Linked DNA regions of Homo sapiens. The protein of the gene in region 1 purifies or fractionates together with the protein of each later gene. This does not show direct contact. Each region holds a gene or a part of one and is shown on either strand. Other genes may lie near its edges. The genes, in order: SEMA4D and PTPRC.

Region 1 (15,280 bases):
GTATCAGTGTTGGGGGCAAGCCAGTGCCCCTTGAGATGGGGAGGGTGCTGCAGGGCCAGAGCTCCTGGCAGGCGTGCACAGTGCTCAGAATGCTGTCAGAGCAGCACTGGCCAGGGGACTCGAGCCCTCCCCTGCCATCGGGAAGCCAAGGATCAGACTTGCCTTGACCTTGACTTATTACCCAGCACTGAGGGTTTGCAGCAGGATCAGTGAGCAGATTCAGCGATGCACAGAGCAGCCACCTCCACCCCCGACAAGTTTCTACAAGTCTTAGGCACACTGCTGTCATCCCCTCTGATCCCTTTTTTTTCCCCATACTTGTTTGAACTCCTGGACTAGGGTGGTTTGAGCTTAGGCCCCACAGCTCCTGCCTACCACGCAGGCACACATGAACCCTTCACCTGCTGCCCGTGACCTGAAAGCCACATGAGACCCCTGACGAAAAATGTGCTAGAAATTATTCTTTGCTAAAACATCAAGGAGGAAAATGAAGTCCTTTTATCAAAAAGAGAATTTGGGCTCCTGTAATCACACAGCAGAGATGAAGGGGGAACATTTTCCCTGTGTCCAAAATAAGTAAGGCTGCTTCTATTTCATATTCTTCTGCACTCAGGTTTTGTGGTTTCAGTATTTCTCTCCAGACCACACACAGTCATGTGTAGTTTATAATTGTGTCTTGGTCATCGGATCCCTGAAAAGCGTTTATAAAGAACTTAGGTTCAAAGCACTTTAGCAGATACTTTGGGTAGAAAGGAAGTGAAGGATCTATTCCTTTAAAGGGAGGAAGGTTCACACATTTGCCCAAGACAGGCTGCAGGGCCGGTGGCTGTCCCCTGGAAGGAGGCTGCCGCCACTTGCCCCACCCAGAGCATGTTCATTGATGGGCCCTATGTCAGGAAAGTCACACAATGCCAGGGGCCTTGGCAGTTGGAAGTGTGTGAGCACGGCAGCACCTCTGCGGTTGCAGGACTGAATGCTGGGCACAGGCAGGCATGGACGATCAAATGAGCTTTCAGTGAGAGGGCTTTTGTCCGTTTTGTTTTGTGTGTTAACCCAGGAGCGTTCTGGGATCCAAGCTGGAACCTGGACGTGGTGCTGCGGGCCACTCACATAATTGCGGCATCTGTCTCCTGTTGCCCGAGCTTTGTTTCAGTCAGGCACAGCCGCGCTGTGCTGGGCCATGGAGGGGTGCACCTCTGACCTTAGTGCTTGCTCACAGGGGATCCACTCTCGGCCCACCACGTCTTCTTGTTGGGGTTTTAGGGGGACCAGGGCGGCCTGAGGACCTTGCAGAAGAAATGGACCTCCTTCCTGAAAGCCCGACTCATCTGCTCCCGGCCAGACAGCGGCTTGGTCTTCAATGTGCTGCGGGATGTCTTCGTGCTCAGGTCCCCGGGCCTGAAGGTGCCTGTGTTCTATGCACTCTTCACCCCACAGCTGTAAGTGCCCTGGGTGGAGTCCCCCTCCTTGCTCCCTTGATGCCGCCAGGTGGTCCCGTCACCTCTTTCCCCTCCCCAGGAACAACGTGGGGCTGTCGGCAGTGTGCGCCTACAACCTGTCCACAGCCGAGGAGGTCTTCTCCCACGGGAAGTACATGCAGAGCACCACAGTGGAGCAGTCCCACACCAAGTGGGTGCGCTATAATGGCCCGGTACCCAAGCCGCGGCCTGGAGCGGTGAGCTGGGGCACTGGGGGCGGGCCGTGCTTTCCCTTCAAGGCCCAGGGCATGGAATCCAGTACAGGCACTGGGGCCTGCTCATGGGCTGGGTACCTGGCCACGCCAAGGCTCTCTGCATTGGGACAGGGACGGCCGATGAGCACAGCTCATCCTTCTTCCCTTTTGCATGTTACGTAACAGCCATTGCTACACTATTGCACAAACAAGAAGGCTGGGGCAGCTGTTTTGCACAATTAACATTGCATAACAATTAGGTCTGTTTCATTTTCAGTTTCTTACAGAGAAACACATGATTCCTTGGCAAAGGCCTCTGCACTGTCCACTAGTCAACAGGAGTCACATTTTTTCCTCCTAAATATAGTGAACTTTATGTAGAAATTGGGAATTTCCAGGCCGATTCCTTCCCTCACATGGGGAAATGGGTGTGACAGGCATGTGCACAGCCCTCTGTGGGGCTGTGACCTACATGGGGTGTCCTGGCCCTCAGAGTTCACTGCAGCACCAGCTCCCTCCCAAGGGCAGCTGTCCCTGACACCATCATGGCTCCTTCTATGCATAGCTTCGTAAAATGTGTTCACTCATGGTCACAGATTTTGGTTTACACACATCAGGGAGCTAGAACAGGAAAAAAGAATCCCTCAGGCTCTTATGCTATTTTAAATTGTCCTGGTTTTAGCCATGTTTAGCATTCTTTTCATGAGAAAGCTGCAAATCAGTGTTCTGTTTTTTAATTTCAAAAGCTCAATAAGTGTTTTTCACTTACAAATAGATAAAAATTCCTTCCCTGAGTATGTATCGTGAATGCAATTCTGTCTTGCAGATGTGTTTTATAACTGTGTCCTCTGCTGGCTGGGGAGAGGCCACCTTTCCTCATAGTAAAGTTATTCACTGCTACCCTCATTTCAAGGCATGCATTGTGTGGTTTCCAGGTTTTGCAGCCCCCCCTGCGTTGGCTGCTTGTGTGGAAGCACCCGTTGCGTGGTGGGACACGAGCACGTTAACAGCGGGGATTTTCTCCCTGCAGTGCATCGACAGCGAGGCACGGGCCGCCAACTACACCAGCTCCTTGAATTTGCCAGACAAGACGCTGCAGTTCGTTAAAGACCACCCTTTGATGGATGACTCGGTAACCCCAATAGACAACAGGCCCAGGTTAATCAAGAAAGATGTGAACTACACCCAGATCGTGGTGGACCGGACCCAGGCCCTGGATGGGACTGTCTATGATGTCATGTTTGTCAGCACAGGTGGGTTCCGAGGGCTTGGCAGGCTTGACAGTGACAGCACATCTGTGTCCTCTGGTAGGAAAACTGGGAAATCCAATTATTCTTTCGTGAGTAGTTCCATTGCCTCCCTCGAGGTGACCTGGGAGGTTTGTGGGAGCGTAAGAAGATTTCTGAGAAGTCACCACACCAGGTGGCTTTCAGATCTGGGACCACCAGGCTACTGGAGGTACTTGTTAAAAATAAAAATGCAAGTCCTGGCCTGTGGCTGGGCTGGGCTGGGGCAGAGGAGTACTGGCCGCCGAGGAGTTGGGGCAGTGCCCACGCAGGGGGCAGGTGTGAGCCACCTGGGAGGAGGCGTCAGCCTGGCGTTTCCTGACTGCTGGCAGAGGACCACGTCCCTGCTTCCTGGCCGAGGAGCCAGGTTTTAGATGTGCCCTGGCATGTGGACTCTGAAATAAGCACTTCTGGAACAGGGACAGGGGCCAGGAGCCACGGTGGCTGGCAGCGCATTGTGGCCTGCCCTTGGAGCCTCCCAGCCAACCTCACATGCCCCCTGTCCTCACCGCCTGCCTAGGGCACTTACCAGTGACACCCCGAGGGCTGGTGGAGCATGGGAGCCCCCTCATGTGGCACTTAGCCTCAAGTGTAATGTCGACTGTTGGTGAGGATTCTTGGGGTCAACCATGGAACAGTTTATTTTCCTTGGAAAAAAACTGGAATAACCCATAACACTTGGGTTTCCAGTTGTCTGTTTTGCCAAAGCCTTTTCCTTTTTTTGTTTCTAATGCGAAATCATCATTGTTTTCTAAGTATCTGTGGAGGGAATGACTTGAGAGTGAAGAGTGTGAAGTTTGCCGCTGTGGTCACTGTCCTTGGTTTCTGTGTCTGGGTTAGTGTCACTGACCTGTAGCTTTGGCCCTGCAGACCGGGGAGCTCTGCACAAAGCCATCAGCCTCGAGCACGCTGTTCACATCATCGAGGAGACCCAGCTCTTCCAGGACTTTGAGCCAGTCCAGACCCTGCTGCTGTCTTCAAAGAAGGTAAAGTGACGCAGGCAGCTGGACCGGGGGCTTCTCCGCTCGGTGGCTTTGATTCTAGGTGACAGGAGAGTTGGCAAGCTGGAGTCGGGCTCCTGGGCAGGCCCCTCTGTCTGTCTGCCCTGGGTGAGCCAACCTTCAGAGTTTGACACAGAGCCATTCCGTGAGCTGTGGGATCTGAATTGGGGAAGGCAGGAAGGCAGACCTGGGGAGACGGGACTTTCTCTTCGAAGTTGCTGGAATGTCATTGAGTTGTTGGTGCAGCTTTACAGGCTGTGGAGAGGTGGGCACTGCTCCATGAAGACACCTTTTTATGCCCTGAGCTTGGGGGGTGTGCAGACTGCATCTGTGGGATATGATAGTGATACAGCTGACTCGTCACCGTGGAAAATCCACAAGAGAAGTGGTTCGTCTCATCTGTAAAGCTGTCTCCACCTGTGGCTGAGACTCTGGTCTGGCCTGCAATACTCCCAAGCAGCCCTTGGCAGGGGTGGGTGGGCGGGCATCCACGCTGGCCTTTAGGGGGCTGCCTCCCTGGCCCTGGCTCCTAACGGGACCTCCAACCACCTTGTGGGATCCAGGCCCAGTCAGTCCTCTCCTCCCTCAGCTGGGAGCAACAGGCAGAGGAAGAGGGCCCCTGTCTGGCCGGGTAAGATACCTACCCTTGGCAGGTGCGTATTTGCAAACACCCCTCCAGGTCTTCTGTCCTCTTCCCTCCCCTGTATCCACAAAGCTTGGGAGCCTGGGTCCTTTTACGTGGTCACCTCCCCTCTGCTAATGGAGAGTTCTCCCTCAGATCTGAAAGGAAAAGAGAATGAAATAGCCTGAGCAAGTTATAAGCCACTGGGTACTGGCATCTGTTCACCAGCCTCTCGGTCTCCAGGACACAAAGGGAGCCCTGGAGATTTGAAGGGTCGACGCTTTAGCCACTGTGGGGCCTCACCCCAGCCTCGTTGTTGAAAGAAGGGGACCCAGAAGCTCTTCTGGGGCCATCGTGCTGTTCAGTGGCCTCAGCCAGACTGGGCAGGCACCTACAACATCTCTAAAATGTGGACTTCTCATTAGAATGAAGATTGGGCCCCTGGTGTGGACATTCGTGAGAATGACACTCTGTTCCAAGGGTCACTTAGGGACCCAGGCTGGTGGAGGCTTCCAGGGCACATGGGCACTGATCCTCAAAGGCAGAAGGGGGTAGGAAGAGGAGGGCCGCACAGAGGGGGTTACGGGTCAGTGCCCACCCGCCATCTCCCAGAACTCGGTCACATGGCCACACCAGGGCAGCTGGCCACACAGGGAGCCTCGCGCCCAGGAGGAGGAGCCAGTGGGTTTGGGGAAGCGCTTGCTGGTCCTACTGGACCACCCGACCCGCCTGTCTCTGTAGGAGCCTCCATTCGTGGGGACGTGGCTTAGTTGCCTGGACAAGCGGAAATACATCCTGCCTGCCGTGGGGTCCTGTGCCTTCTCCTTGGGCCTCAGTAGGCTCCAGGTGGGGGTGGAAGGCCCAGCTCCATGGCCATGGCAGCAGGAAGTGGCTGTTCAGTGGTAAAAAGACTGTGCCGCCTGACCCCATCAGGCTCTCTCACGGTGATCAGCAAATGGAGAAACGGCCAGTACCACGCCCTCCCCCTGTCCTACAGCTGGGGAGGTGCGCTGTGCCTCCACCCTCACCTCCTCTCCCCTGATGACAAGCATGGGGTTTTGCTTTTTATTTTGGTAAATACACATCAGATGAAATTTGCCGTCTTAACCATTTTTCATTGTGCACGTCAGTGGCATTAAGAACATTCACGTTGTTTTGCAGCCATTACCACTGTCTGTCTGCAGGGTGCTTTTCATCTTCCCAAACAGAAGCTTTTTACCTGTGAAATACAAACTCTTCATTTTCCCCTCCTCCAGCCCTGGGCAGCCGCCATTCTGCTTTCTGTTTCTGTCTGGGTACCTCATATGAGTGGAATCACACAGTATTTATCCATTTGTAACTGGCTTATTTCACTTAACATAAAGTCCTCAAGGTTCCTCCCTGCTGTAGCAGGGGTCAGGGTTTTCCAAGGCTACATACTCCTCTGTCGTATGTGAATACCGCATTTTGTGAGTCCCGCATTTTGTGTGTGCGTTCATCCCTTGATGGACACGGTTGCTCCCACCTTCTGGCTTCTGTGAACAGTGCTGCTGTGAACGTGGGTGTGCAGATACCTCAAGTCCTTGCTTTCCATTCCTTGGGCGCACACAGCAGATGCGGTTTGCTCGGCCCTCTCTGAGCCCACCGAGTAGGCTGTGTCTGTATTTTCACCAGGACTCCTTGGGATGCTGAGCTACAGCTAGCGTGGCAGAGGGCAAGGAAGGCACTTAGACAGCTCAGTTGCCTCTGATCACGTCCACCGTCACTCCAACCTGCCCTCGGGGTCTGACGCGCACACACAGCAGCAGAGACAGAGATGGGAGCATGAGAGCTGCCTGCAAGGGGACAATCCTCAGGCCCAGGGAAGGCGGAGACAGGGGGCGTCGAGGGGCAGGAGTGCACAGGACAGGCTTGCTCTCAGCGGGCCTCACTCATGCTGCCAGGTGCCTGGTCAGGCTTTTTTTCTTTGCCTTTAAAAATTTTGTCTTGAAATAATTTTAAATTTACAGAAGAGTTTTGATGATTGCACAGAAGGATCTTGAGCGCCCCCACCTAGCTCCACATGTCCGATGTCTCACATAGCCAGTGTGCATTTATCTGAGCCAAGGTGCTGTCATGGTGCAGTGCGTTACCTGAACCCCAGACCCTGGACCCTCCTACCTCCCGCCCACCACATTCCTGGCTCAGCACCTCAGGTTGCACTGGACACTGCATCTCCTCGGCTTCTGCTCTGTTCCTGCCTCCCTGACCTCAGCACTCCTGGAGAGGAGTAGTCTGGTGTTTTGTGGTGTGTCTGGTGTATTCTTGTGATTATCTTGGGGTCGTGGTTTTAGGGGGAGCACCAAAGAGGGCGCTTTCTGGGGATGGGGCATCTGTATGACTCGCACCAGCGTGATGACCTTGGTCATTCTGTCCAAGTCACCACCGTCTTTTTCCATGTCGAGTGTGTCGGGGCATGTAGTCCACACTGGGGGTGGGGGAGAGTGAGCCCCACCTCCCAGGGGAGTCATGTGGGAAACCCCCACAGTCATTCATGCTTATTTGCAGGGACAGACTTGGAGGCTACAGAAATGCCCTGTTCTCCCACCCACTGACATCCACATCGACCAGTGGGTCCTGCCTGCAGCAGTTACAGCTGGCTGTCCTGACGACCAGTTCCTCCTTCCCTGTCCCCTCTTCCCTTCCACAGTCATCCCTTGGTCTCTGTGTGGCGTCGTTTAGTTTTTACAGCTTAGTTTCATTTGGGCTGCAGCCCAGCCCCATCCGGGAGAAGCGGAAGCTGGGGCTGAGTCTCCCGCAGGGTGCAGGAGGTGGTCTGGATCCCCTTGGGACAGGCCTTGCCCCCCAGAGCCCACCCCACCCTCCACAGCTACCCTCAAGCCTCTCTTTGGGGTGAGGAGTCAGGCGGGCCCCACTTGGCCACCCAGGGCACCCTGCTCTGCACTGCATGGTGTTCACGCCACCTCGCAGGTGCCCCCCGCGGGACCCAACAGGACCAGCTGTCCCTTGGAAGTTACCCAGCTTGGCTTTGCTGCCAGAGAATGTTTCCGCCACCTCCACAAGCCGCGCGATGCCCGAACTGTGATCTGGGATGTCATCCTCAATCCTTCCCACAAACGTGGCTCACACATGGCCTCATCTGCCCAGGTCTCTGCTGCTGCTGCTGCTGTGAGGCCAGCGGCGGGCCAGGTTCCCTCTGCTGTGTATTATCACAGTTTCCATCCTTGGGGGCTTTCCCTTTCTCTCGTGGGTCTGTGTCCGCACAGCTGGATGTGTGGCCTGGGGCTTCCTGTATTGGCATCAGGGCCTGTGATCTTCCAACCACACTCTGAAGTTGACTCCGAGCGTATCCTCTGAGGATGAAGGTCGTGTTTCATCTGACTGTAAACCACTAAGTCATGTGTAAATTTGGGAATCTTGTATTGTTAACCAAAAGGTGTCCCCAGGCTGTTGAGGCAGATGCCCTGGGCAGAGGCTAGAGAGCGCGCTCCACGGGCCACCTCCAGGTCTGTTGCACGCCCCCGAGCTTCAGGTGGGTGCACTGCATGTGGGGCACCCTCCTTCCAGCTGAGTTCCGTTCAAAAGCAGTCAGCAGCCCTGGATGCCTGTGTGCTGGGCACTGCTGGTGCCAGGTGGGCTGATGGGATGGACCTGAAGCTGGTGTCACTGGGAACCAAGTGTCCCAGAAGGTGGGAGAGTCTCACCTGCCCTCTGCTGTGGGTGTGGCTGCTCTGGAGCTCGGAGGTTGACTTCCCGTCTGTGAGCTCTTCCCTTTTACATATAGATAAGTGAAAAGCAAAAGGCATTGTTCCTTTTTTATGTTTTGTATCACGATCTCCTCATCCTTTGCATGTCGTCCGTTTGGCATCCCTGTTATGTTAGGCCTCTGCTGGATCCAGACCCTCACGAGAGGCTCCCCGCCCACAGGTGCTCACATTCTGGCTCGGGGGACGAGGTTGGGCTTCGAGGTGGTGTGCTTCAGCCTCTGGCTGCAGCCCCTTCTCACCTATAGTGAGGCCGGGAAGATGACCGGGAGTGCCAGGCTCATGCATCCTCTGCTGCAGGGAGGAGATCTGGAGGTGGGGACTGAACAGCCTCCCCACTGGCTAAGAGAAACACGTGCAGAGAAGCGCTTTGCTGGAGGGCAGGCACCTGTGGGTGCCCAGACAGGGGAGAGAGGGATTTGGACCTAAGGCCCAGTGAGCCCTGACATAGCACGTGGATTCTGCAGGAAGGTCACAGACCTGCCTTGTTTGCCTCTGGTTCTGAGTACCTCTCCTCCTTACTGCAATGTCCCCTGAAGGTACACTCTGGCTGCTTCCCACACACTGGTGCAGAAGCAGAGGCCATGCTCCTGGATGCCTGCTTGCCTGATGCTAGTTCTTCTCTGTCTCATACACGCAGGGCAACAGGTTTGTCTATGCTGGCTCTAACTCGGGCGTGGTCCAGGCCCCGCTGGCCTTCTGTGGGAAGCACGGCACCTGCGAGGACTGTGTGCTGGCGCGGGACCCCTACTGCGCCTGGAGCCCGCCCACAGCGACCTGCGTGGCTCTGCACCAGACCGAGAGCCCCAGCAGGTATGGGGCGGGATGCGCTGCCTGGGGATGTCCCCCATGTGTGTGGGTGAATAACACGTGCCGGTTGTTTTGCAGGGGTTTGATTCAGGAGATGAGCGGCGATGCTTCTGTGTGCCCGGGTGAGTGACTCCTCGACGTCCCATTTCCTTTGGGAGTGGCGAGGTCTTGTAGCCATTTCACGGTGCTTCAGTTCTGTGGCATTTGTGTGTGTTTTGTTTTTCTTTCTCCACTCGGAACAGAGGTCAAGTGTTCTGTAGCAGACTCGTGGTCTTCTCTGTCTTTTTTTCTTGCCGAAAGAGTACTTGAAGCCACTTAGAGTGTATCTGCTTACTGGGAAGCAGTCTCCTTCCAAAACCATCCTGTTTTCTTTCTGCTTAGCTTGGGGCTCATTAAGCAAAACCTAAGCCTGTTATAAATGGGGAGAAAGGAGCCCATGAGTGATTAATCCTCAGGCAGTGTAAGGGCTGGGGTGGTGTTTCCCCTGGGGCTCCCACCTGGGATTCACCCGCCTGTGGATGTCTGAAATAGCACCACACCCAGAGGGAGGGGTGGCATCAGGCCAGATGCCCCTTCCCCAGCAGCCACCTTCCAGGGTGCTAAAGGCAGACTTGACCCTCAGTTCTGTGTCTTCCTGACCCTGACAAGACAGCTGTCATCAGACTAAGAAAGGTTTAGGCAGCTGGGCATGGTGGTACACGCCTGTAGTCCCAGCTACTAGGGAGGCTGAGGCAGGAGGATTGCTTGTGCCCAGGGGTTCAAGGCTCAGTGAGCTTATCATGCCACTGCACTCCAGCCTGGGGTGACAAAGTGAGACCCAGACTCTAAAAAGAAAACAAAAGCTGGCCGGGCACAGTGGCTCATGCCTGTAATCCCAGCATTTTGGGAGTCTGAGGCAAGAGGATCACTTGAGCTCAGGAGTTCGAGACTACCCTGGGCAACGTGGTGAGACCCTGTCTCTACAAAAAATACAAAAATTAGCCAGGCCTGGAGGTGGTCACCTGTAGTCCCAGCTACTCTGGAGACTGAGGTGGGAAGATCCCTTGAGCTGGGGGGGTTGAAGCTGCAGTGAGCTGTGATTGCACCACTGCACTCCAGCCTGGGCAACAGAGCCAGACCCTGTTTCAAAAAAAAGAAAAAAAAGAAAAGTTTAGGCAGGAGGAGAGTGCTGAGATGCACTGAAAGGCCAGTCTTCCTTGCAGCCATTAGCAGAAGCGTCTCGTGTCTGATTCAAAGAGCTGACACTAGGCACAGAACTGGCCTCTGCTCAGCTTCCCCAGCCTGACGCGTTTTCTTCTGGGACACGGGTGAGAAATGGGATTTCTGCTGCTCAGAGCTGCCTCCAATTTCTTTGTCCCCATGGGCTGTCATCCAGGGCTCATCTTTGCTTTTTGGTCACGCATGTCTTTATCTCCTTAGTTGTTCTGGAAGATTCCATGTTGCTACAGTGGGTGAAACTCTTGCGTCATCTTGTGGGTATTTTAAAGAAGTTGTTAAATAGCAAATGGGGATTGTTGACGCTGTGCACGTTTATTTTGATGTTCCAGATAAAAGTAAAGGAAGTTACCGGCAGCATTTTTTCAAGCACGGTGGCACAGCGGAACTGAAATGCTCCCAAAAATCCAACCTGGCCCGGGTCTTTTGGAAGTTCCAGAATGGCGTGTTGAAGGCCGAGAGCCCCAAGTACGGTCTTATGGGCAGAAAAAACTTGCTCATCTTCAACTTGTCAGAAGGAGACAGTGGGGTGTACCAGTGCCTGTCAGAGGAGAGGGTTAAGAACAAAACGGTCTTCCAAGTGGTCGCCAAGCACGTCCTGGAAGTGAAGGTGGTTCCAAAGCCCGTAGTGGCCCCCACCTTGTCAGTTGTTCAGACAGAAGGTAGTAGGATTGCCACCAAAGTGTTGGTGGCATCCACCCAAGGGTCTTCTCCCCCAACCCCAGCCGTGCAGGCCACCTCCTCCGGGGCCATCACCCTTCCTCCCAAGCCTGCGCCCACCGGCACATCCTGCGAACCAAAGATCGTCATCAACACGGTCCCCCAGCTCCACTCGGAGAAAACCATGTATCTTAAGTCCAGCGACAACCGCCTCCTCATGTCCCTCTTCCTCTTCTTCTTTGTTCTCTTCCTCTGCCTCTTTTTCTACAACTGCTATAAGGGATACCTGCCCAGACAGTGCTTGAAATTCCGCTCGGCCCTACTAATTGGGAAGAAGAAGCCCAAGTCAGATTTCTGTGACCGTGAGCAGAGCCTGAAGGAGACGTTAGTAGAGCCAGGGAGCTTCTCCCAGCAGAATGGGGAGCACCCCAAGCCAGCCCTGGACACCGGCTATGAGACCGAGCAAGACACCATCACCAGCAAAGTCCCCACGGATAGGGAGGACTCACAGAGGATCGACGACCTTTCTGCCAGGGACAAGCCCTTTGACGTCAAGTGTGAGCTGAAGTTCGCTGACTCAGACGCAGATGGAGACTGAGGCCGGCTGTGCATCCCCGCTGGTGCCTCGGCTGCGACGTGTCCAGGCGTGGAGAGTTTTGTGTTTCTCCTGTTCAGTATCCGAGTCTCGTGCAGTGCTGCGTAGGTTAGCCCGCATCGTGCAGACAACCTCAGTCCTCTTGTCTATTTTCTCTTGGGTTGAGCCTGTGACTTGGTTTCTCTTTGTCCTTTTGGAAAAATGACAAGCATTGCATCCCAGTCTTGTGTTCCGAAGTCAGTCGGAGTACTTGAAGAAGGCCCACGGGCGGCACGGAGTTCCTGAGCCCTTTCTGTAGTGGGGGAAAGGTGGCTGGACCTCTGTTGGCTGAGAAGAGCATCCCTTCAGCTTCCCCTCCCCGTAGCAGCCACTAAAAGATTATTTAATTCCAGATTGGAAATGACATTTTAGTTTATCAGATTGGTAACTTATCGCCTGTTGTCCAGATTGGCACGAACCTTTTCTTCCACTTAATTATTTTTTTAGGATTTTGCTTTGATTGTGTTTATGTCATGGGTCATTTTTTTTTAGTTACAGAAGCAGTTGTGTTAATATTTAGAAGAAGATGTATATCTTCCAGATTTTGTTATATATTTGGCATAAAATACGGCTTACGTTGCTTAAGATTCTCAGGGATAAACTTCCTTTTGCTAAATGCATTCTTTCTGCTTTTAGAAATGTAGACATAAACACTCCCCGGAGCCCACTCACCTTTTTTCTTTTTCTTTTTTTTTTTTTAACTTTATTCCTTGAGGGAAGCATTGTTTTTGGAGAGATTTTCTTTCTGTACTTCGTTTTACTTTTCTTTTTTTTTAACTTTTACTCTCTCGAAGAAGAGGACCTTCCCACATCCACGAGGTGGGTTTTGAGCAAGGGAAGGTAGCCTGGATGAGCTGAGTGGAGCCAGGCTGGCCCAGAGCTGAGATGGGAGTGCGGTACAATCTGGAGCCCACAGCTGTCGGTCAGAACCTCCTGTGAGACAGATGGAACCTTCACAAGGGCGCCTTTGGTTCTCTGAACATCTCCTTTCTCTTCTTGCTTCAATTGCTTACCCACTGCCTGCCCAGACTTTCTATCCAGCCTCACTGAGCTGCCCACTACTGGAAGGGAACTGGGCCTCGGTGGCCGGGGCCGCGAGCTGTGACCACAGCACCCTCAAGCATACGGCGCTGTTCCTGCCACTGTCCTGAAGATGTGAATGGGTGGTACGATTTCAACACTGGTTAATTTCACACTCCATCTCCCCGCTTTGTAAATACCCATCGGGAAGAGACTTTTTTTCCATGGTGAAGAGCAATAAACTCTGGATGTTTGTGCGCGTGTGTGGACAGTCTTATCTTCCAGCATGATAGGATTTGACCATTTTGGTGTAAACATTTGTGTTTTATAAGATTTACCTTGTTTTTATTTTTCTACTTTGAATTGTATACATTTGGAAAGTACCCAAATAAATGAGAAGCTTCTATCCTTGATTTGGGGAAGACATTCCTTAGCGGAGGCTGTGCAGCCTCCCGCCCCTGCATGGCCCAGGCGGGACAGCTGGGCTCGCTCTTTTCTGTCCGTTTCCTGCTGTGTTTTGCCCTCTCTGGCCTGTGACGTGCTCCTGGCGACTTCTTCCTCAGTGCCCTCTCTTTTCTGTCCTCTCTGTCTCACAGCCTCGTCTCCTAAGCCCCTCCCTCCTCCTGGCTCCTCTTCCCTGTCCTGTCTGGGCCATGTGGGGGACAGGAGGCTTTCCTCTCCCTGGACCCCCTGGCCAGCCTCGGGTGCGGGGCCCGACAGCAGCTCGAGGGTCTCCTTGCTGCCGCCCTTCCTGAGTGACCAGGCACAGCACGTGCACGCCCTGGGGAACTTCTACCTCTTCTGCCAGGCCACAGGTGAGTTGGGCCCTCTCTGTCCCCTGTGCCCTGTCCATCTGTCTCCTCCCACAGGTGGGGGGCGGGCGGGGGCATCCTCCACATCCCTCCACATGTTCCTTTACCTTCCTTATCTGTCCTGGCTGCGTCCCTCGGGTTGAGCCGTTTCACGCTTTCATTGTGGGTCCATCCCGAGGGAAACTGTAGACAGTGTGAAGCCACTTCTAGTGTACAGGGGTCAACCAGTGTTTTCTGTAAAGGGCTAGATATTTAGGCCTTGTGGGCTGCAGGCTGTGTCACAGCCACTAAGCTCTGCTGTTGTATTGTAAAACCAGCCATAGTCAATACACAACGAGTGGTCAGGGCTGTGTGCCAGTAAAACTTTATTTATAAAAATGCACGGTGGGCCAGATTTGCCCCAAAGGCCCCAGTTTCCCAACCTGTGGTATATAGGATTGCTTCTCCCTTAAAAAAAAAAAAAATTTCAAGAGACAGGGTCTCCCTCTGTCACCAAGGCTGGAGTGCAGTGACACAATCATAGCTCACTGCAGCCCCTGCCTCCTGGGCTTAAGCCATCCTCCTGCCTCAGCCTCCAGAGCCAGAGTGCTTCTATTTCTGCTAACAATTTGGAGGTTGATATACGTGGTATTTGGAAATTTTAAAAAATTAAGAGCTTCCAGAATGGGAGTTGTTTTAATGACTTGCTTCGTGGTATTTAAAAGCGGAAAAGATTGGCGGGCATAATCCCCCTGCTTTGGGAGGCCAAGGCAGGAGGATTGCTTGAAGCCAGGAGTTTCACAGCAGCTTGAGCAACATAGCGAGACCTGATCTCTACCCAAAAATGTGAAAAAAACTAACCAGGCTTGGTGGCACGTGCCTTGAGGATTGTTTGAGCCCAGGAGTTTGAGGTTACAGTAAGGTATGATGGTGCCACTGCACTCCAGCCTAGATCACAGAACAAGACCCTGTCTCAAAAATCATCATCATTATAAAAACAGAAAAGATTGAGAGTCTAGTGTACTCCTCTGGGACCTGGAGGCATTTGCCCTGGATTGGAAAATACTCGGATGGGATATCTGCTCTTGAAAGATAGTAGATGTCCAGAACCACACTTCAAAGATGTATCCTGTGCTTCAGGCAGTGCGTGGTAGCCCTGGTGGCCCCTGTGTTGTCATCTGACTGATCAGTAGATACAGAAAGAAAGGAAGTGGCCTGTTAGAGCCTGCCCCGGGGGAGGGATGAAGTTAATGAAGAGGAAAAGCAAACCCAATTGCTCTCTTTTTAAACATGTTAAACACACTGTCAGTAGCTCCTGAGAGTTTTAAGGTGCTGCCCTCTCCTGTTAAACAAGCTCTGAGAGCCCCAGGTGGCCCATGTCTGCTGAGGCCAGAATGTCCCTTGGCAGCCAGCACTGGACAGGAGAAGCTGCCGGTGAGCATGGAGCACTGTGGAGACGGAGCTTTGCTAGGCTGGCTTGTGTGGTTCCTGCCCTCCACTGGGTGCTACGGACCAAGGCTGTGCTGAGCCCCCTGTGGCCGCTCTCACAGCTGAATGGTGCTCCTCGGCCAGCTAGTTTGCCTTGGTGCAGGCATCCCAGAGGACTTCATGTCTCCATGGAGACTGTGTCCTGTCGCAGCACTGGGGTCCTTCAGGCAGACTCAGGAAGCTCCTCCTCGGTGGGGAGGCTGGGAAGCGGGCGGGTCTCTATGAACTGGCCGTGGACCCAGGGCTCCTTTGCGGGCAGATGCAGGCAGGCTGTATGGTCAGGCAATGTTGGTTGGTTATTTATTTATTTATTTTTGAGGCAGAGTCTTGCTCTGTTG
Region 2 (15,280 bases), on another chromosome or scaffold:
CTTCTTTTCATCTGTTAAATAAGCACAAGGATCTATATACTACTATAAGGGTTAATTGTTAATTTTATATGTTACAATAGTGAAATAATTAGAAGTAGGGACACAAAATAAATGTGAGTTGAATGGACAATAATCGGTGCTGTATAGTTAAGACATATAAAATCAGACAAAAGAGTAAAGATATAGAAAACCAAACCAATCTAAAGGTTGTGTTTGACCTTCATGATAAGCTATTACAGAATTCACCAAAACGAGTTTTTATTACTTCATGAAAAATACCACTATTCTTGATTTTTTTTTTCTAGATCTTAAACAATTATTAGACTATTGGATAATTGGGGCCTGTAAAAGTGTCCTGCAAATGTTAATAAATGCATTAAACATATTTCAATAGGTGCATACACATTTCATATTTGAACATATAACACAATGTATTATAAACAAGAAAAAAATAATGGTTGAATTTTATTATGATTAGCGACATCCATTCCTGGTAAAAACATTCTAAGCATTGGAGAAATTCAAAGTAAATGCTTTAATGAAAGTTATGAATGGGATTTAACATGGGAACTATGCATATGCAATATCATATTTTTCATATCAATGAAAAATTCCATAAAAATAGCTATATTAAATTTCATATGTAAATATTTAACAAATATGTTTGTATTCTTCTATTTTTATACAATGAATATTAATACATATTGCATTTATTTATTTTAATGACATTTATTTAAGTTCAATTGTACAAAACCTAATTTGTTGTCAAAAGTATCAAGCAATAAATTTTAAATATTGTACAGGGAATAATCGAGCATGCAAAATTGAAAACCCCATGTAAAGACAGCATGATAAGCTCACTGGAAATTTTTTAATTAAATAAGCTTAAAAAGACATTGGACTAAATGCTAATATATGGAATATAAGATTTCCCAATGTTAATTTAGTTAACAACTTTTTTGTAGTAGCATACACACACATACCACCTTTATGTACTATCTCTAGAAGTAAAATAGTAAACTATATAAGATAGATATATATGAGTAGAACAAGGAGGACATCTTGAGGTCATTTCAGAAATGTACATGATTTTATTGAGTCTGCACACAGTTTATGATTTTTAAAAACAGATCCTTCAAGCTAAGTTAACACTTCTAATATAAAATGTATTTTTTCTTCATAAAAACAAAGGAAAAGCAAAAGCTTTTAGATTCACTTGAAAGAATTCTCTCTCTTTCTCTGTCTCTCACACAAACACACACCCATACACACATACATATACACACATAACGATTACAAAGAAGTTGTTTTTTACTGAATAAGAGATAAAATTTTAAAATAAGCATACGTCTGTACAAACTGTTCTGGCAAAACTATCTTAAATATTTTTCCACAGTAGTAAAATATAACCCTTCTACAAATATTGGTTCGCTGCATTTAATTAATCCACTGTATACCTATTTTCACTTCCTACTTCTACAAAAATAGAAATAACAGCTAACAGGAGGTTTGGAGTTTCCTCATTTATGTCTTTTCCTATGAACCTTGATTTAAAGCTGGACTTGCAGGACCATTGACAGAATGTTCTGGCCCCTCAGTGCCACTCGTGGGTTCAGAACCTTCAGCCTGTTCCTTTGCTTCAGGGAGCTTTTCTGGGGCACCAAGTGGATTAACACAATTAGCATCCTGCTTTACTTTGTCCACTTCATTATCAAATTCAATTTTATCTTCTTGATGGTTGTTTTTCTTTACTTGTCCATTCTGAGCAGGGTAGGTGCTGGCAATGACGTCATATAGGAATTGATATTGCTCCTAGTAAAGGAATTAAGTGGGAAATTACATGAAGAAAGTTGATGTCATTATTTTTATGCCAGATGAAGATTAGCAAGAACTAATGATTTATTTGTGGAAGTATTGGATGACAGAAAAGTACTTTTTGATATGTTCTCATAAAAACATCTAAATAATTTAGTTTCTTTATGGTGCTAAAGGGTTGACTGCAGGATACTTTTTGAACTTTACCTTGGAGCAACCCCAAACCAGTGTTCACTCCGCTCATGGGCCATTTCCATGCCTTTGCTCATGATGCCACGTTTTGTACTTATCCTCCTGTCTAATGCCTACACATTATTTAAGAATCAGGGCAGGAATCACTGCTTCGAGAAGCGTTTCTTGATTCCTAAAGTTTAAATTAAATGCCCTCATTCATGTTCTTCTTATAATTTTTCTGTCATTTTACTCACTACATTGATTAGTAAATACCTGGCTTTCCCTCATACCAATTAGCTCTTTATAGCAAGAGCACATAGCAAGCATTTGATACATTTTTAAGTACCAAGATATGAAATCTCAATATCATACATGATTAAAAGCTTTATATATTTTAGTGAGTAATTAAGTTTACACTGTGAATAAGGATTAATTCCCAGATGACCATCTACAGTTACTACCACATAGAGGGTATACACGATAGATCGATTACAAGAATATAAAACTTATTTTCCTTCCTGTATCCACATTTCTTTGCAATGTGAATTTGCAGGCCCTCTCAAGAAGTGGAGTCTATTTCCCTACCCCTTGAATCTGGGCAGGCTTTATGACTTATTTATTTGGCTAATAACATACAGAAGAAGACATGTGTGTCACTTTTAAGCCTGGGCCTCAAGTGGTCTCACACAAGTCTTCTTTCCCTTGTGGAACTTGCTGCTTTAATGTGAATAGGCCTGGGCTAGTCTTCTGGATGAGGAGGGACATGTGGCCCACTCACTGTTGTTGCCATAGCTAAATGGCAGCCACATGCCAGCCTACTGGCAGTGTAGGTCACTTTAGACCAGCCAAACTGTAGGGCACACATCAGCTGAAGGCAGACACATGAGTCAGCCTGGTCTCTATTGCCTGAGCCTGAGGGCACCAGCAGAACATTCCAGCATATCATTAGACTACTGAACCATAATAAATGTTATTTGTTTAGGCTCCCAAATTTGGGGGTGGTTTGTTACACAACACAAATCGATACAGGAGTGAAGGAAAGAAAATTAAGAAATTCATGAGCATTTAGGGAAAGGCTCTTCATGAACTGTCACAACAAAGTGCTAGTAAACTTTAGGCTCTTATTTAGACTTATAATAATTTAATGTGAATTATCATGTAAAAGTAGAAAAGCTAAAAGAATAGGAAAGAAAATAGAGAAGAGAAAAGGAAAGGGGAAAAAAGAACAAACGAGAGGAAAGGAGAGGAGAAAAGAAAAAAGGAAACCGTCAAAAAGAAAAAAAAAATTCCGAGCATGTTAAAAGCAATGGTGAAGGATACTTACGAATGTGGAAACCATGCCTGGCCTAGCTTTGCGTAGAGCTTTTACCACTTGAAAAATATCCACTACCTCTTCTGTTTCCGCACTTTCTAAGAGATTTAACAAAGCACAAAATATTCCCGTTTGCTGAGATCCATCCCTATAAAAGAAAGAAAAGATAGAAAATAATCCTACTTCTCACCAAAAAGGGTGATATTAGAATAAAAACAGGAAGAGAGAGAATATATTTTTTGCTTCATGTTTATCATAATTATCTTATTCCAACCTCTTTCAAGAACCAAATTATTTACGCTAAATGCATTTTTAGGCAAATTTTTCAATTTAAGAGTGTGATAATCCTGGAATTGAAAACTTATTTGTCTTCGACTTTACAAATATATTTTCTTTTATTTAGTATTTTATGGATTTTAATGCATTTTTATTTACATCTGAAGTTGTTGAAACCAATATCAGAATGCCAGTATGATAGATAAGGAAACCAAGATTTGGAGAAGAGAAAGCTGATGTAATCAGAAATATTAGACCTAATATTTTGTAAATTACTAGAACACATGCTCTTCTTCACTCTTCTGCCTCTCTACCACGTTTCACAAATGTTTTCACTTCTGCATCAGTAGAAAAGTAATACCTAGTAGAATTATTCACTAAAAAGAGGGCAATCAAATAGTTTACCAAACAATGAGAAGTATAAAGCATTATCATAAAGATTCAATTTAAACAATATGTTATCAGCAGGACACTTTAGTTATTGTACATAAATCATATTCTAAGAAACATATATAGTTTTACAGTGTAAACTTCCCTTCCTCAGCTTTCTTTCCACATAAATGCTGAAAATTCATATATTTCTTAAGGCTTGATTCTAGTATATGCAATTCCAATAATAACAATTAGACTTTTTCAAAAATTCCAAAAGTTTTTCACTAGATAAACATTTCTCATTTTACTTTACTATTTTTCGTTTCTCATTTACTTCAATATTCTTTTTCATGTAAACTTTTATATTATATATCTTTCTTTCAATTATATTGCTTATTTAAGGTGAATATGTAAGCACCTATCACAGATGAAGAAACTAATAAAATCTAGTAGTATTATTGATATTACCACAATCTTTGCCTTTGGTTCAGTTTAGAAAATTAAATAATGAGTTTCAAATCAAAATTGCTAAGCTTTGTGATTTCAGTTAATATTTAACTTAAAATATGTTTAATAAACTTTGTGTTCATTAAACATATTAGGTGTCTTTGTGACACCTAATAGAGTAGATCAATGTATATGGGTATATGTGTAAGGTGATACCCATCTACCTATCTGTTCACACACCCTTCCATTCATTAATTCATTCACACAAATGACATTCCTGGCTCAATGTTAGCTACCAAGGAATCAAAGATGACATGACACCAAGTATTAAAAAACACAACTTAAAATTATTGCACTATAATATAATCACTTCTATTATATTTCTACAATAGTTGTGTTGTGGAAACAACCAAGAGAGTGACCGACTCCATAAGAAGTTTTTACTGTGGTTATGTGTTTCATATATGAGGATAACTAGATAAGACAACATGTGAACCGAGAAGTCAAGCATTATGATTTTGAGAGCACATTCTACCAAATCCCACGCACCTGCAGTGAATGAGTAGAGGTGTACTCTTGTGATGCTTGTTCCCTTCAGAGGAATTCTTCTGGGGAAGTTTTTGTTTGACGACCTGAATCATAGAGATTAATTCCTTGGGTTCTGCAGGAAGCTGCTCCACACTCCAGTTTGTATATTGGTACTGGTACACAGTTCGAGAGTCTTTCCTCTAAAATCAGAATTGAAGAGAGCATTAACTGGAGTGAAGTTCAGCTTATTTTCTAATTTGATAGTCATATTTTCTTCACAGTTACTTCTATTTAAATAATTTTAAAATGTTATTCTGAAACATTATTTATATGATGGCCTTGCCTGCATAGAGTAATTTATATTCATTTTGCTACCAGATCCATTATATCAAAGAAATATACTCCCCAAATTGTTTCCATACCTTGGAATGTCTCAGTTCAAAGACACGAAGGGTATAAGTTGAAGATTTGTCTGTGTCTTTCAGGTCAACTTCAATATCTCCATATGTTTGCTTTCCTTCTCCCCAGTACTGAGCACAGATTTCCTAGATAAAAGAAGACAATTCAACAATTTGTTTCCTATTTGAAATATGCAAAGGATCAGTCTCCCTCTTTCTCCCTTTCTTTCTCTGTCTGTGCCTCTTTTCTATTAAATGAAAATTATTGTGTTCTAAAATTGAAACCTACTTATAAAAATCCAGAATCTATTTAAGTGCTGGCGACCCATTTAATAAATATGTGGTGTTTCCTTGTGTAAGAAAAGGGAAGCTGAGCACAATCGAGGTGACTGGGACACCCCCGGAACAGCTGTTTTCCTTAGTGTAGGTCTTTGAGGTTTGCTCCTCTTTTCCACATGCTTATCATGACCTCTTCAATATTTATGGCTGGCATGAGTCAATGTTATTCATGACCCTTTCAATAACTCAGGTCCCACTGTCCCTTCAGTGGTTCTTGAGGAAGGAGGCTGCATCTTTTGGAGCTTTGTCTCTGTCATCTTGTTGACCAACACCATAAGCAGCTTTATATATTTTGTCTACATAGCTAAGGAAAGGGCCAGATTGAAGAGTAGATGAACCACAAAAGTGTTTCTTCTTACTACAAACTGTTGTCTACCAACTACAACCCCACAATTTCTGACAAAGACAGGGAGTCCTGCCGGTACTTCCATCCTGTTTCCCAGCTTTCACAATTTATATGAAGGAAAGGATTGTGGGAATTCCATGCTAGAAATCTGGACTTATATTCCTTTAAAACAAAAAACATAAAAAGCAACTTTCCATGTACAGGGGAAGGGGACCAGGTGAGGGTGAGAAAGAGTGAGATTTAGGGGAGAGAGAGGGGCATAAAAAAGCATAAATCTTTTGCATACTTATAAGGTTATTCACTGAATAGGCTTGAACATATGTCAGATAATGTGGTTGGTGCTAAAGCTGAGTGAGATCTACCACCAGGGAAATTTTAATAATAACTGAAGACATTAAGAAAAGGATAAAATATCTGTCACAAGCATTAAGTAAAAAAATCAAATTATAGCTTAGATTCACCTTCAACTATAGACTTTTATGGCAATAAATATTATATGGGAATAAAGAAAGGATGATATAGATACATTTTTCAGGAGTTTGGTCTTGTTAAAAGAATAGGGTCAAAACTGGAAGACAGCACACATTTAGTTACATGGAATATCAATAAGTTTAGACTCAGTGATGACAATGCAAATGGCGTGTTTAGGCTTGGGCATGAAACCTGCTTGTCCAGAGTGGAGAGGATGGAAAACATAAAAATGGGAGGAAGATGAAAGACACATGAGGGGGTGATTGTCCAGGGTGCTGGATATCACAAAAAGATCTTGGCTTTTATCTTGAGAAAATGAGGAAAACAGCGTGAAAATGTAGCTGTTATTTGCTGTGACGCTGACATTGCTGCATCCTGGCTAATCTGTGAGCAGCATGCAAGACTGGAGGGGACAAACAGGAGAGACTGTCAGAATCCAGACACAGCTGATGGAGGCCAACACCAGGGTGAAAGGGGTAAGACTGAGCAGACAGAATTATGTGATGGAGGGATAAAAAAAGACGTGGGTATGGCGATGAAGCAAGCAATCCAAGACTAGAGAATGACGTTTTATGACAGAAAGGCTTAAAAGAAAATCCTCAAAAGTACAAACCTGGTCTCCATGTTTCAGTTCTGTCAGCATAACAATAACTTTGACTTTTCTTTGGAAGATCATCTGCCAAAAGTCACCAATGGTCTCCTTCAGTGGTCCCTGAGCAGCAATCATCACTTCAGGTTTCCAGTAGCTCTTTTTAGACAAAAAAAGGGTGGGACTTCGTTACTACAGAAGAGAGCTCAGTAGATTCTTAAAGTAACCATTTGGAAATATAGTCAGTTTGATATCAATGCTGTTACATACAAATAGTAATATTCTTATGTTTCTTACAAGAAACAATGTAATAGCTATATGTAAAATAATTATACAGATAATAGTAATTCTTAGCTAATAATGTGAAATCAAGATTACAACATATCTTGCGAAACAAATTTTCCTTTCCACAAAAGACACACATTTTTGTTTCTCTATAAAGGTTAATGTGATTGTAAAAAGGAATTACTTAAGCATTTCAAATTACCTTCATCGTGTCTATACTAATTTTAATTAGTGTCTTTACATTCTTATTATATTTCCTAATTAAACTAATATTCTATGAATGTGTGCTTTAGGAAACTTTGGAAAATAAGTAAATCCAACAGTGTATAAATAATAAATATTTAATAAATGACTAAAGTTTCATTGTTTGAATTCTCAGTTAATTAAAAAAGTGGGGGGATATGACACAGACTCACCTAATAATTCAGTTTATCTGAATGAAAAGTTTCTAACCATACAAATATACAAATTTGTCATTGCCTACAATTTGGGTATCTGAGTATGTATAAACATTTTCAAATACTTGTATTTGCTCAAATTTTACTATTTTTAAAATTGATGTGATTATAGCTATATTTGTCATAAAATATAACCAATAGCATTATCTTATTTTGTCTCAGGTTATTAGGTTATAGTATTTTTAAATCTTTCATTAAGTTAAATTGTAGCATTGAAATTGAAACTCTCATGTCAATCTATATGTAGTTATGACCAAGCTCATTATTCTTTTATAAAATCGCTTAATGAATGGCCCTAATAACATAGATATTATTTTAAAATGTTTGGATCTTGGGTTTTGGCAATTTAAGTACCTACCATTATAAAAGATGCATTGATGTATTTGCTTGGTTCCTCTGAATCACTGTCATCATCAGAGGATTCATCTGAATCATGCTCACTCTCTTTACTCATTTCCAGCTCATGTTTAAGTGGCACTCTGTTATAGTCATCTATGTGAAATAAATCAGTAGTAAGTCTTCCTTGAAAAAATTAAATTTCTTCTTCATTGTCATGTGGAAATTTGAAAGTATTTAAAAAGGGACAGATTGTATTATGAAAACTTACTGATCTACATGAAATAAGATCCTATATAAAATTCAGTACTTGTCGATAAACAAATTATACAACAAAAGTCTAAGAAAAAGGATTCCAGGAAAAAACATGGAACATAATTCCATGTCAAACAACAAAGAGATATCATATCATTATATATGATTATTTAATCTTTGATACATATACTTTAATTTCCCATGGACTATTATAATTCTGCTTGATATAAGTTTACAAAATACATAGCGTAGATTTTTTCCCTCAATTATACTCCAGTAATATTAAATTAACAATCTTATATGGGTAGCTTTGATTAATTATTTAGCCCAGAAAATTATTTGACCTATAATTTCTCACTGTTTCTTAATTTCTATAATTTATAATAACTTGGTCAAATGATTTGATTAACCATATCACCATCAATTCCATATTTTAAACTACATTCATAAGGACTCCTATGAAAATTAACTAGGTCAACCATGCACTGATCTGATTTATTTGGTCATCTAATTTATCAACTTGTGTTATATTTTATCCATGCTAATTTTAGTTTATGCAGCTGAATAAAATTACCATATGTGATCATTTTAATATGCTTAAATAGTAGAATTCAAGTATTGAAACTGTGCATATTTTGATCTGTTAAATTTGAAGATTTAGAATTTATAGAGTATTTTCCCCTTACTTTCAACCTCCCAGTTATAAGGGATAAAAAGGAAACATATAGAGAACAAATGGATGTAATTTTTACTATTTGTCAATTACCCTGGAGTAAATAACTGAAATAAACTAAAAATGAAAGAAAATGGGTAAAAGAGACTTGCTCTTTTTTCTCCCAGCTTTATATATTTCTCTTTTATGACAACCCATTTCTGAAATAATTGGTAAAAAGAAAACACTGAATACAGTCTACCCTCCAAAGCCCATTGTAAATGTTCAGGATTATAAGTTCTTGCAATAACTAGTATTTTAATACCTAGTAACTTCTTCCCTATTAACAACCAAATGTTGAAAACTTGCTTCAAGATAATTTATATGACTGTGTGTCCCACATTAAACAAATCCAAAAGAGCTTAACTTTATCTGATACAAAAAATAAAAAAATAAACTACATACATGGGATGACATTAGAATTCCTGTTTTTACTTTTATTTTCTTCTTGATTTCCAATGTGCTGTGTCCTCCAGCTCCTATATGAAGGAAGTCTCTGAAAAAAAAAAAAAAAACAGAAAAACTCCTTTAAAATGTAAATATTGGCTTATTGCATCATAAGATGCTCCCTAAGGAAAAGCATTTCATTAATTTTTGTGAAATTTGCATATGCTCCCTATAGGCCATAATTTTTCGGTTTGCCTCTGATTTTTTTTCTTTAAATTGCTCAGGCATTTAGTCCTTTTGACAGGGCTAGTATGCACTAAAGATATATATGTAACAGACTATGTCTCCTTCTTCAGAGCTGCTTGATAGAAAAATAATATAGTTTGTTCTTATATAAATTGAAACCACTAGACCGATGTTGATCTATATTGCAAAAGCAATGGTAAGTTATTTTAAATGATCAGAAATAAACTTTGGAGACAACACATTCTTAGGAGACTTGGCACATGTTTTGAAAGTTCATTCTTAATTTGTTTACACCTTCCAGATTGCTTTCCTCTCACCCACAGTTCCTAATTAGTCAGAAAAGATCCATCATTTCTATACACAAATCCTTTTAGTTTTCTTTCTTCCTACTTAATCCAGTCTGCCTTCATTTCTCGCTTGTAAAACATCAACAATTTCCTAACTGGCCTCTTTGTCTTCAATCTCGCCTGCTCTAATCCTTCTAAAACACAAAACAGAAGATGCTCTTCTGAAGATGAACAGCTTTCCATCACTATAAGAGGACAACAAACCTCCTCAAAATAGCATAAAAAGTCTTTATTGATACGCCCCTGACTGTTTCTCCAGCCTTACACCTTACTGGGTCCCTCAATACTTCTACCAAACCAGCTTCCTCAATTCTTGGAAGGGCCAAGCTGTTCTTCAACTCTTGGCACATAAACACTTTTTTTTTTTTTTCTTGCTTGAACTACCCTTTCCCCTTTTGGTTGCTCTAATAACTTTTCTTACCCTCTAGGTATCAGTTTAAATACCAATTTCTTCTGGAAGACACCCCTGCCTACAGTCTTTCCACTAGTCCTTAAATAAGTATTTGTCAAGTGAATAATATTTAATGATAATAGATAATGTTACAAATAACTGAAACTGAGAAGGCTCCTCATGTACAATTCGGTAAGATTTTATATACACACACACGCATGTAGATACGTGTGTGTATATAGACATATATTTTTTCAGCATAGTACCCTCATTCAAACTAATTATGGCACCCTGTTTCAAACCTCATTCTTTGCTACGTAATTGAGTGAAAGAAAATATCATCACTGAATTTTAGGCCACTTGAACACCACCATGAGCTGCATGAAGGACCAGATGTTTTGGAAACTGTTACAACACCTTGTGCTCTTGTGAGTGTAGTCACCGAGGCAGCCTATGCCCTGTAGCAATACTCAGGATTATAGGTGGAATTAATGGCTCACCTTCATCTAAGACACAAAGGATCTGTCACTCTTAAATCTCTACCTGTTTCACTTGCCATCACAAGTCTAAGCTTCCCAGTGCATCCACATTCCCCAGATTTTTATTCCTGAATGGTTATTTGTATCCTCAGATACAACCCAGTCTCTTACATCTAACCCATCAGTGCCTTCCTCCCTGCCCTCTGATGCCCATCGTCTGTCATCTGTGAACTCCCATTTATCTTAATCATCTTCTCCCAACAGTCACTTCACCCTTTTTTTTTTCTTTCCACCAATTAAAACCTGGATGTCAGCTAAGGACACCACCAATAACTCAGCAGCCCTTTTAAGAAAAAGTTGACTTTCCTCCTCACACCCCATTTACCTCACAGCTTCAAGAAAAGATACGTGTTCTCCTTGATCCCTGATTCTACTTGCAAACCATTTCTACTCATTTGCTTTCAAATCAACCAAGCACTTTGATATTCCTGCCATCATACTATACTAGCTTCTATCCACCGGCTTCACTGGGAAGTGTCAGGTATTGATTTCTGAATCACTCCACCTCATTTAGTTTTAGGCTTGGCTAAGTATATTCTCTTCTTTCCAAGGTCTGTCATCATTTTTGGTTAATTCAACATTGACAAGAATAATCTATCCAAGACTCTAGTCTCTTCATTTCTTAGCTTCTTCACCTCCCATGACTTTCCCTCCACTTCCCAGTCATCCACTTTCATCATTCCACCTTTGTAGGTTTCATTCCAAATATTACATCACCTCTAAAATCATAAGTTCAACTATCTGTGCTATTGAAAATTACCCCTATTATTCCTAGTCATTTATTCTGATATGTTCAACCTAGCAATCTGTAATTCTATCAAAGTCTCCAACTTATTATCCTTACTACTTTCTCTCACCTCCCTCATGTGGCCAATTTGCTTTTTATTTTCCACCTCAGTCATCATTCATTTGTAAACACCCTCAACTCGTTTGCCTCACTATTTTCAAATAGTCACTTTTCAAAACCTAGATAGGTTTAACTCAACTATCTGCATACACAGCCTCTACCCCCAAAGAGCTCAATGCTGCCATAGAAAACAATACAACCAACTGACTAATTCCTCTTTAAACTTATAATCATAAATTTCAGGTGATCAAATGATAACTTCTGGCAATCTTACTGCCTCTGCCTAGGGAGATTGTTTTTATACTTTGAGGTAACTAGTTTATACCCTTCAAGCATTGAGCTCTTCTTTGCCCTACTCGCCCTTGTATCTCTCAACTCTCAACTGATGACCTAGCCTCACATTTTCTTGAAAAATGAAAGATCATCAGGCAAGAGCTGCCTCAACTTCCCAATACCAAATTTACCAACCGACTTGCATTTCTACTCTCATCTTCTGTCTTACTGTCTGCTTAAATGGAATAATTTCACAGCTTCCATCTGTGATCTGGATCACATCCTCTCATCCTTCTTCCCATGTCCACTTGCAGATCATTTTGACTCTTGTGCCTAGAATTGTACTTGGCACATAGCAGAAACTCAAGCACATTTATTTAGTGAAAAAAATTGTCTGTCTTTTCTATAGTAAATAAACATTCATAAGAATGTTTAACTTAAATGTATAACTGTCTCTAACAGCTTATGTGTTTATGTGGATTAGTAGGGCAGGTATATTGAATAAGGTTAATTTATCAGCTAGAAAAGCAAGAAAACAACAATAAAACACTACTCTGTTTGAGACTACCCTGTGTCTGCTAGTTCTTCCATTATAAGTACAGGTCTTCTGGGGGATTGAGTCACTTGGTCATTATTGCATGCTCCACCTCCACCCCCACCTTAACCCCACTTTGATCCTAAACATTAAATGGTTCTGCATGTGATTAAAAGCACACTCCTGGTCTTTAGAAACTCTGAATTTACCAGTTTGGTAGATTATGGAATGACTCAGTAACCTGGAAATCATAGGTGGAACAAAAAAAACACAAAACATTTTTTTGACAACTGAGCAATTTGAGGACAGCTATGCAAACTCTCTGAAATTATAGTGAACTACATGCTAGGTTAGCTGTGAGAATAATTGCCTAATAAATAGGTTAAGACACATGTACTTATCCTTTACTGTGTGTCTACCAGCTCCAGCCAGTTCAACTTCCTAAGCAGTCATAAACTCTTCTAATGATTTCCTTTACAAACCAAAACCAGATACGATTTTTAAAGGTGATATGCTGTATTGCCTTTGGCAGACCAGTTTTGTGGCTATATACTATTATTTTGACACTTCATTTTATACCAGCTTAATGAGGAATGGCTAAAAGTATTAGCAATAGAATCAGATTTCTGGGTCTAAAGAAATCTCCTATGTAATAGTTGTGTAGATTCAGGCATTTCTCTTAACTCACTGTGTCCTAGTTTTCTCATCTGTGCTCCTTTGGTTCTGGTGAAGACTAAATGCAAGCACTATGTCAAGTGCATAGCAAACACCTAGAAAGTAGATGACACTGAATAAAAGTTATCTGTAATTATTATTATTGTTGTCACTATCATTACCTGGAATTCAGCCTCTAGTGGAGACGGCTCACTGGGTGGATCCCTTTTCTTCATGTTATGTAGATATGGATGTAATTCAGACAAATTCACTTCTGTTTCTCCAAACTGATTGTATTCCACCAAAGCCTGATGGATCAAGATGTACTGGGCCTACAATTTCAAGAACAAATACAGATAGTTAACTGATAATCTAGAGTCCTCCAAGTCATATTTAAATAAAATATACATTCCCCATAAATTTGCTCATATTGGAACAATTCATGGCAAAGTAAATTGATATCTATAATATTTAAATATTCTGGAAGTTCACTCTCAGAGTTTTCTGGAATATGAGCAAATTCTATTTTCAGATTATTTTTTCAGAAAAGAATTACTTTGCAAATAGATTATCCATGTACTCTGTATTGCACAACTTTTATTCCTAAAAACTAAAGAACATTGTATGTTACTTCCTTTAGTGATTATTGGGTCAGTAAGCCAAATTACTGAATGTAAAACTATAATAAATTTCACAGTATATTCAAGAGATAAAAAAGCAAGTTGTTATTCCTTAGAAAACCTTTTTTTATAGTTTTTAGAACTTAAAATAAGAAAAGTATTCTTTTAATAAGAAAATTATTTTTTTGTAATCCAATGGGCCAAACCCAGATTTAACTACTCTTTACTGCTTATTTTGTTTGAATCCAGTATTTTCAAGGAAATGGTATACTTCTGATAATCCTCTTTAACCGCCACCTTTAGTTCCCTGAGTTTGGCACTGTCTTTCCACTGTACTTTATTTTCCACTGTAAATAATTTCTTTTTACCTGGTTAACAATTTGTTTTTATGTTTCTACACTGCTATCTATGTATCTGTAATCACAAGCATTGTACATTTTCATGTTTTTTTTAAATCACATAAATTATATCTTGAATGTTTCGTATGGCAGCTTTACTCACTCATTGTTTTCATCTGAGCATCTCTCCAAACAGACAGACACAAACCTAGATCATTGCTTTCTACCACAACATAGCATTTGTTGTACAGAGAGTTCACATGTCCACATTTTGTCTTCCTATTCCCCTATTGATACATATTTACGGTGTTTCCATTCTTTCATTGATATGTATTTCACTTTTTTTTTTTTTTTTTTTTTGCTATTTTGACAATGCTGAATGCAATGCACATTCTTGCAAATGTTTCTAGTTGATGCTTCTCTTGGGTATATGCATATATGTGATTTTGCTGGGTCAAATACAGACATTTTCAGTAATTACCATCACTTACAATCACCAAATGCATAGCATGGGCCAGGGACTTGTTTAAGTGCTTTATTTGTATTACTTTTGTGGTTATAAGTCTGTGAGGTATTATCATTGTCTCCATTTTACAGATGACTTAACTGAGGTGCAGTCAGACTAAAATTACTTAATAAACAATACCACTCACCCTCGTATTAATAATTAAAAGCAAGATTTGAAACCTGTAAGTGTAGTTTCTAAAACCAGCTGTTGATTACTATACTATTCTGTCTCTTCAGTTTAATTTTATGAGATGATGCCAAATCTATTTTCAGCATTTTTACTTTTTTTGCCAATCTGATATATGTTAACAGTAGTTCATTATTTTAAAAATTATATATTTTGTGGTCATCTTTCTTCCACAGTACTTTTAGGCACTAATGAAAAATGCTTCTAAGTATTTCTGGTGATTACCACGTTTTAGTTTTCAGGAAATCATCTACTGTTTGAGGTTGTGAAGAATTTGGATTTTTAAAAAATATCAT

What was found.
Region 2: the proteins of SEMA4D (region 1) and PTPRC purify together in Homo sapiens (affinity purification with western blotting; 2 studies listed by BioGRID and IntAct, with this or other methods). This does not show direct contact.

What each region holds. Positions count from the first base shown.
Region 1 is NC_000009.12:89,375,031-89,390,310, reverse strand, and holds the end of SEMA4D (semaphorin-4D isoform 1 precursor), read left to right. Parts: intron 1-1,263; coding exon 1,264-1,439; intron 1,440-1,518; coding exon 1,519-1,675; intron 1,676-2,702; coding exon 2,703-2,925; intron 2,926-3,828; coding exon 3,829-3,944; intron 3,945-4,205; coding exon of another isoform or gene 4,206-4,364; exon of another isoform or gene 4,365-8,883; intron 8,884-8,964; coding exon 8,965-9,137; intron 9,138-9,212; coding exon 9,213-9,256; intron 9,257-10,681; coding exon 10,682-11,607; 3' UTR 11,608-13,076; downstream 13,077-15,280. UniProt on the Homo sapiens protein: Cell surface receptor for PLXNB1 and PLXNB2 that plays an important role in cell-cell signaling. Regulates GABAergic synapse development. Promotes the development of inhibitory synapses in a PLXNB1-dependent manner.
Region 2 is NC_000001.11:198,742,438-198,757,717, reverse strand, and holds the end of PTPRC (receptor-type tyrosine-protein phosphatase C isoform 1 precursor), read right to left. Parts: intron 13,665-15,280; coding exon 13,515-13,664; intron 9,610-13,514; coding exon 9,519-9,609; intron 8,303-9,518; coding exon 8,169-8,302; intron 7,227-8,168; coding exon 7,092-7,226; intron 5,470-7,091; coding exon 5,347-5,469; intron 5,125-5,346; coding exon 4,946-5,124; intron 3,450-4,945; coding exon 3,314-3,449; intron 1,813-3,313; coding exon 1,537-1,812; 3' UTR 242-1,536; downstream 1-241. UniProt on the Homo sapiens protein: Protein tyrosine-protein phosphatase required for T-cell activation through the antigen receptor. Acts as a positive regulator of T-cell coactivation upon binding to DPP4.